Linked DNA regions of Homo sapiens. The protein of the gene in region 2 interacts with the protein of the main gene of each other region in a pairwise test. Each region holds a gene or a part of one and is shown on either strand. Other genes may lie near its edges.

Evidence for each region. The genes of interacting proteins can lie anywhere in the genome.
Region 1: the proteins of ITSN2 (region 2) and RNF20 interact in a two-hybrid assay, tested with the Homo sapiens proteins (one large-scale study listed by BioGRID).

What each region holds. Positions count from the first base shown.
Region 1 is NC_000009.12:101,540,102-101,543,998, reverse strand, and holds part of RNF20 (E3 ubiquitin-protein ligase BRE1A), read right to left. Parts: intron 3,797-3,897; coding exon 3,629-3,796; intron 3,510-3,628; coding exon 3,362-3,509; intron 3,207-3,361; coding exon 3,024-3,206; intron 1-3,023. UniProt on the Homo sapiens protein: Component of the RNF20/40 E3 ubiquitin-protein ligase complex that mediates monoubiquitination of 'Lys-120' of histone H2B (H2BK120ub1).
Region 2 is NC_000002.12:24,297,696-24,301,592, reverse strand, and holds part of ITSN2 (intersectin-2), read left to right. Parts: intron 1-353; coding exon 354-439; intron 440-1,421; coding exon 1,422-1,684; intron 1,685-2,778; coding exon 2,779-2,928; intron 2,929-3,897.

The DNA.
Region 1 (3,897 bases), on a different chromosome or scaffold from region 2:
CTCTTAGTATCAATACAGAACAGGTTGGTCATATGGTGGTTTTCATGGTTTTCAAGCTAGGCTTGCCCATCAGAATCACTTGTGGAACTTTTAAAATAGACATTTCCCTAGGACCTATCTCATACCTACTTAATAAGAACCTCCATGGGCAAAGCCAAAAATAAGAATATGCTCAGAAAACTCCCAAGGTTATTCTGATTCATAACCTGAGTTAAGAAGTAGAGACTGAATTTTAGTCCTCTCAATATCCTAAGCACTGAGGACAGGGCTAGAATACAATAAAATTCAATAAATGTTTAGTGAATTTATAAACAAGCCCATAAATGCAATTCTTTTGAATCAAAGACCAAACAAACAGACAGTACTGCCCTGGCAGGTTAGACAGTGCCGCCCTGGCAGGGTTAGACAGTGCCGCTCTGGCAGGTTAGACAGTGCCGCCCTGGCAGGTTAGACAGTTCCGCTCTGGCAGGGTTGGACAGTACTGCAGTGGCAGGGTTAGACAGTGCCACCCTGGCAGGGTTAGACAGTGCTGCCTTGGCAGGTTAGACAGTGCCGCCCTGGCAGAGTTAGACAGTGCCGCTCTGGCAGGTTAGACAGTGCCGCTCTGGCAGGTTAGACAGTGCCGCCCTGGCAGGGTTAGACAGTGCCGCCCTGGAAGGGTTAGACAGTGCCGCCCTGGAAGGGTTAGACAGTGCCGCCCTGGCACGGTTAGACAGTACTGCCGTGGCAGGTTAGACAGTGCCGCTCTGGCAGGGTTAGATGAATTTATAGACCTTACTCTATAAGGCCTATACTTGCTCTAGAAGGCCTTACCTTACTCTAGAAGGCCTATCATATCATAGGGGATTTTGTAAAACACAACACAACTCCAAACCTCCAAATAATGAATTACCCTAAATATAAAAGACTGTATAGTGTTATTGAGGAATGGCGTGGTAGAAATTCCACAGGGAATGGGGAAGTAGAAACTACTGTATTGATGATGTCCTAGGAATTTGAGGAATGTCAATTTTCAGTCTAAGTCAGGGGGATGAACTTTCAAACAAGTTACAACTGATGCTATAATTCATACTTTATACATCTTTATCTCTTAGAAAGTTCAGCTTACCAATGGCAATTGCCTTTTGTGTTACAAATAATGGCATGGCTATTTGTAATGTTTCTACTTTTTAACTTAAACCCGACCTTAAAATGCATGCCATTAAATAGTAATTTTAAAGTCGTTTGATATACTACTCATTTTATTCCCTTTTTAAATAAAACAATTGTTTCACTTGATATTCATTTATGAAATCAAGTTTAACATAGTCTATGCACATGGCATATTAATTACCATATTACTAAAATTTAACAATACCTTCTAACTATTCAATTAGAGCCCAAGGAGAAAGAAGCATATGTGCACACACAAAGCACCATTATTTTATATTAGGTGACAGGGAGGTTCACATCCATTCATTCCCCATTGACTAAACATCTGCTAGATGCCAGATGCAGTGCTAGAAACTAGAGAAACAAAGAAGAGTGAGCCAAACTACTGAACCAAGACACAGTTTAGCTGGGGACATGCAAGTAGATGTAAGATATTAATACAAAAGTACAAAAGTCTGAGAGGACATAAAACACATTGTTTAGAATGGTTATCTTTTGAGAAATGAGAATGGGGAAACTTTTGTAGTCTACTTATTTGTATTTCTGACTTGTATATTTTTAAACAAGTATCTGTTTTCCTTATAATAAAATACAGAAATGCATAATCTAATGGAAAAGCAAAAGAAACCCGTGACCAAATTTTCACAGGCCTTCTACAAGCTGCTTAATTCTGTTGACAACTTAGCCCAATTACCCTTAAAAGCAAAATTACAGAATAATACAATTCTTATATGCTCATCCAATGGTTCAACCTCCATTACATTCAACTTATTTCCTTCAGAAATGAAAGGTTAAACATCTTAATGATAAGCAGGGAAATTAAGATATTACAACTAGACCATGATTATTATTGAAAACATGAAATCAAGGCATTTTTTTTGCATTTGAGCAAGGTATTTATGCCACAAATGACTAAAGATGTAACCTAGCTACACAAATACTTTACTGTACAAATTTAAATTTTTGCATTAACTCTGAGTAACACAATTATCCCAAATAATTATTTTATTTCAAATACTCTTTCATCCATAGAATATTTTCTAATAATCCTTTTAACCATACAGATCATCTGTCAACTCTAAAACCTGCACCAACTCTTTTTAAAAACATTAGCGATAATGAAAAATAAGTTAAGTAAAAATTAACTTTTTCAAGTCAAAATTCTGTAACTAATAATTAAATAATATAGTTGTTATTTAAAATAAAGTATTATCACTATAAATCAATAGCCTACATACACGATAAACAGATCCAGATATTAGAGCTGTTTATTAAATAATAAAGTTAATTCTGCTATTTACAAAACTGTCATTAATAGAGTATATCAGTATAGAGCTGATAAACTCTTTCCTCAGCTTATTAAAGGACTGTCATGTGGCTCAAAATGAGAAGCACTGATAAAAGATTAATATGCCATAATGAAGACATTACCAGTAACACTGAAGGTTAGAATTTCTAAAAATTTAATTAAAATATATAGTCCAGGCACAGTGGCTCATGCCTGTAATCCTAACACTTTGGGAGGCCAGAAGAGAGGATCTCTTGAGGCCAAGTTTGAGACCAGCCTGGGCAACATAGCAAGACTTCCTCTCTACAAAAAGGTTAAAATATTAGCCAGGTGTGGTAGTACGTGCCTATAGTCCTAGCTATTCGGAAGCTGAGGCAGAAAGATTGCTTGAGTTCGAGGATTCAATGGGCTATGATGGTGCCACTGTGTTCCAGCCTGGGTGACACAGTGAAACCTTATCTCTTAAAAAGTAAATAATAAATAAATAAAAATAAATATGTAAGCTTGCAAACTACAAATTAGCATGCAAAAATGAATTCTTATTCCTCCTCCACTACTCCCGGCCTCCAGGGTCTTGCCTCACCTCCACTGTTTAGCTTCCGGGATAAGAGCTCCACTTTTTCTTGCAATTTATCATAAACAGTCACAATCTGGGACACGGCTCGGCGGGAAGACTCCACACGTTCCTGCAGCTGAGACTCCATCTCTTCACTGGAACTGCTGGCCAAAGTAGCAAGGAAAGAGAAAGCTGGCTCTTGCCCTTCCCCTGAGGACACAGGGGGAAAAAAAGAAGCCCCCCAAAATTATAAACTGGAAATAACAAAATCCATTTTTTTTCCCTCAAATGGAAAGCCTCAAAGCAGAGCTCTACTTTAAAAACCCAGATAGCATGCAGTGATAGAATCCATCACGAACACTTGCCTCTCTCTCGGTCATCTTTACGCTCCTGATTGCTATCAGAGTCTGGTTCTGGTTCAGGCACAACAAGGGCTTTTCGTTCTGTGAGTAGGTCTCCCAAGCCCTGCTCCAGATCATAACGTTTAAGGATGATACGGATGTTTTCATCAAACTGGAGAAGGGTAGGTACAATTATGAAGAAACAAAGGACACAACTTTGGAAATGAAGAGAACAGTAAGGAGAACTAAATTGGTCAAATAAAAATCTGAACAAATAAACAAGTTAGCTACCTGACTCCAGTATCGGTTGACAATCAATAGTGAGGCATCATCAGTGGCCTGTCGTCGTTCCAGTTTTTCAATGTGCTCACGAAGTTCATCTTCAATGGCCTGCCGCTGATCCAACATTTCTGCCAGCTTGCGATTTTTGGTTTGCAGTGTTCTAATGTCTAGTTCCTCCTGCCCAGTAAACCAATCGTATTAGTCTCCACAAAGAAATAAGAAAAATGAGCCGTTAAACTCAACAAGGTCACAATTATTCATTAGTTATTTTCTATGAA
Region 2 (3,897 bases):
GATTATGCCACAGCACTCTAGCCTGGGCAGCAGAGCAAGACCCTGCCTCAAAAAAAAAAAAAAAAAGAAGTGGATGTGTTTTCATTATGTTATACATAAGGAGGCTAATGACTAAAGAGATAAAGAAAAACTTGCCCAAGAACCAAAATTAGCTGAACTGTGATTTGAATCCAGATTTCTCTGTCTTGAATATCCATATACTACTGTATTTTGTAACGACATACCAAACTGTTTTAAATATCTTTAATACTGTATTCCCAATATCAAATTGCCATAATCACTGGTAGTCTGTGTAATCTAGTCTGAAAATGTCCAGACTACATGATGCTAACTTTGTTGTTTGATTTTTTTAGAGGAGGAAAGCAAATTGATTCCATTAATGGAACTCTGCCTTCATATCAGAAAATGCAAGAAGAGGAGCCTCAGAAGAAATTACCAGGTATCACTGAGTGTCAAAGTTGTATATTTATACTGAGTTCTTTTAAATTCTACCTTTAAATGTAATGGAATATTTAGAATTTTTATATTTTTAATATTTGATGTGCTATATGAGAAAAAACTATTTGATAGATGGGATGTATTTTGGTATTGATAAAATTAAGATGGTCAAAATGAGAAGAGTGTGAAGGAAGAAGAGACAGTTAGATGTATTTGACAGGATTATAGACATCTGAGTTAAAGTATTTCTCCTAATTTAGGCTGAGTTATTAGAGGAAACTTTGTAATGAAATCTTTACCTTTAAAAACATTTAAATATTGGTTGAAAGAATACATTTGTAGCTGTTTTAATATATTAGGATGTTAATGACATCAAAACAAATGTATAACCACACAGCTTTGATTGTCCTTGAAGAAGAGAAAAAAGTTGAAAAAGTTTTTTTTTTTTTTCCTTGTTGCCCAGGCTGGAGTGCAACAGCACAATCCCGGCTCACTGCAACTTCCGCCTCCTGGGTTCAAGCGATTCTCCTGTCTCAGCCTCCTGAGTAGCTGGGATTACAGGTGCCTGCCACTATGCCTGGCTAATTTTTGGTATTTTTAGTAGAGATGGGGTTTCACCGTGTTGGCCAGGCCGGTCTTGAACTGCTGACCTCAGGTGATCCGCCCACCTTGGCCTCCCAAAGTGTTGGGATTACAGGCATGAGCCACCACACCCAACCGAAAAAGTATTTTTATTGGCAAGTTTATAAAAATTATTTCTCTCTTGATTGGATTCAAACTTAAAAATTTGTTTTTCTAAAATTGAATATCCTTGAAGAAAGTAGATATTTTTCCACTTAGATTTGAGTTAAAATTATCCTTAGGAGAAGTATTCAAATACTGATAGCACTCAAATGATCACAAGGCATAAGTATATAGAAACTAGATTACAGGTTCTGTAGGCTGTTAATGTGTGTGGATGCTGATAGGCATACCTTGTTCAGTTACTTTTGAGGACAAACGGAAAGCCAACTATGAGCGAGGGAACATGGAGCTGGAAAAGCGACGCCAAGCCTTGATGGAGCAGCAACAAAGGGAGGCAGAACGTAAAGCCCAGAAAGAAAAGGAAGAGTGGGAACGAAAACAGAGAGAATTACAAGAACAAGAATGGAAGAAACAACTTGAATTAGAAAAACGCTTAGAGAAGCAACGGGAATTGGAGAGACAACGAGAGGAAGAAAGGAGAAAAGACATAGAAAGACGAGAGGTTATTTTTAAGTTTTTTACTTCTTAAGAAAATCATTACATTTAATAAGTGACTATATTTCATTTGATTAAAAAATGCTTATTTTTGAATTTTTGTTTTGCCTTTTGCTCTGCATCATTTCATTCTTACCCTATACAAATCTGATCATTCCTTCCCTTGAGGAGGGAAAGAGGCTTCTTGCTTATAAGGAGTTTTCAGAACTGGTACGTGGTAGAGAAAGCATCCTCTGCAGGTGATATCTCAATCAAAGGAGGATCGACTGCAGAGCTAAGTTGAGTGAGGAGCTAAGGTTAGTTAGGCAACTGAGCAAGTCATTAGACGAAAGCAAGTTTAAGATCCAGATTAAGAGTCCAAGGAATTGGAGAGACAGAAAGATGAGAGCTGGGCATTGAAAGTCTCTCTAGAGAGGAATCAAGAGGATGGGCTTGCACAGGCCTTTGGGATAGTGTTGCTGGGAAAGAAGGGTCCTTAGGAGGACTGGCTGTGTTTTAAAGGGCCAGGGATGGAGCACAGGAAGTTATTGCACACTGAAATAATATAAATAGAATTTTTCCCCCAGATACCAGAATAGAGGGAAAATTATTCCTGTTAACATTTATATTTATGAAGTCATTCTGTAACTTATTAAGAGAAAAATGACTGTAACAAAAGGATGGTCTTCCAACCTGGGCAACATGGTGAAACCCTCTCTCTACAAAAAGTACAAAAATTAGCCAGGTGTGTGGTGGTGTGTGCCTGTAATCCCAGCTACTTGGTGGGGCTGAGGCAGGAGAATCGCTTGAGCCCAGGTGGTGGAGGTTGCAGTGAGCCAAGGTGGTGCCACTGCACTCCAGCCTGGGTGACAGAGCAAGATGCTGTCTGGAAAAAAAAAAAAAAAAAAAAGATCTCGTGAAGAAATGAGAAAATATGATAGATGAAGCCACTTTCTTGGAAGTCTTTAAGCCCATTAATAAAACTAGATTTGCCTAGCTACCCTTAGGCACTAAAGCCACTAAGTGCTAAACTCTGCCTGACTTTTATTGTTGTCTTCCCAGTTTTTGAATCGTGCAAAATTTTTGATTTAAAAATTAAGTATAATTCCTTTTTTTTTTCAGGCAGCAAAACAGGAACTTGAACGACAACGTCGCTTAGAATGGGAGAGAATTCGGCGACAGGAGCTTCTCAATCAAAAGAATAGAGAACAAGAAGAAATTGTCAGGTTAAACTCTAAAAAGAAGAATCTTCATCTTGAGTTGGAAGCACTGGTATGGCTGAAGTTTAAGTGAAATTTATCTGAATGATGATGGAGCTACCTGTTGAAAAATGTAATTGTGGGCCAGGCGTGGTGGCTCACACCTGTTATCCTAGCACTTTGGGAGGCCAAGGCAGGCAGATCAACTGGGGCAGGAGTTTGAAACCAGCCTGGCCAACATGGTGAAACCCCATCTCTACTAAAAAAAAAAATTAGCCAGCTGTGGGCTGGGCATGGTGGCTCACTGTAATCCCAACGCTTTGGGAGGCTGAGGTGGGTGGATCACGAGGTCAGGAGTTCAAGACCAGCCTGGCCAATATAGTGAAACCCCATCTCTACTAAAAATACAAAAATTAGCCAGGAGTGGTGGTGTGCGCCTGTAGTCCCAGCTACTTGGGACACTGAGGCAGAAGAATTGCTTGAACCTGGGAGGCGGAGGTTGCAGTGAGCTGAGATCGCGCCACTGCACTCGAGCCTGGGCAACAGAGTGAGACTCCGTCTCAAACAAACAAACAAAAATTAGCTGGCCGTGGTGGGTGGTGGTGGGTGCCTGTAATCCTAGCTACTTGGGAGGCTGAGGCAGGAGAATCACTTGAACCCAGGAGGTGGAGGTTGCAGTGAGCCAAGATCGCACCACTGCACTCCAGCCTAGGTAACAGAGTGAGACGCCATCTCAAAAAAAAAAAAAAGAAAAATGTAATTGTGTTTTAAAATCTCTCGTGAATTAGTTATGTCTTAATGTCATTAGTCACATTTTCATATAAACAGACTGTACAATATGGTTTACTGAGAAAAGGATAATGACTCAAAATGCTGAGAATTATGTTGTAGCATCAGTTCAGACACTGATGAACCATGTACTCCTGGGCAAGACATTTCCCTTCTCTGTGCCTCACTTTTCCCTTGTCTGAAATAAAGAGTTGTGTTAGTTGAGTGATTTTCAGTTTTCAGATTGGTCTCTGTAAGATGGTCTGAGGAGGAC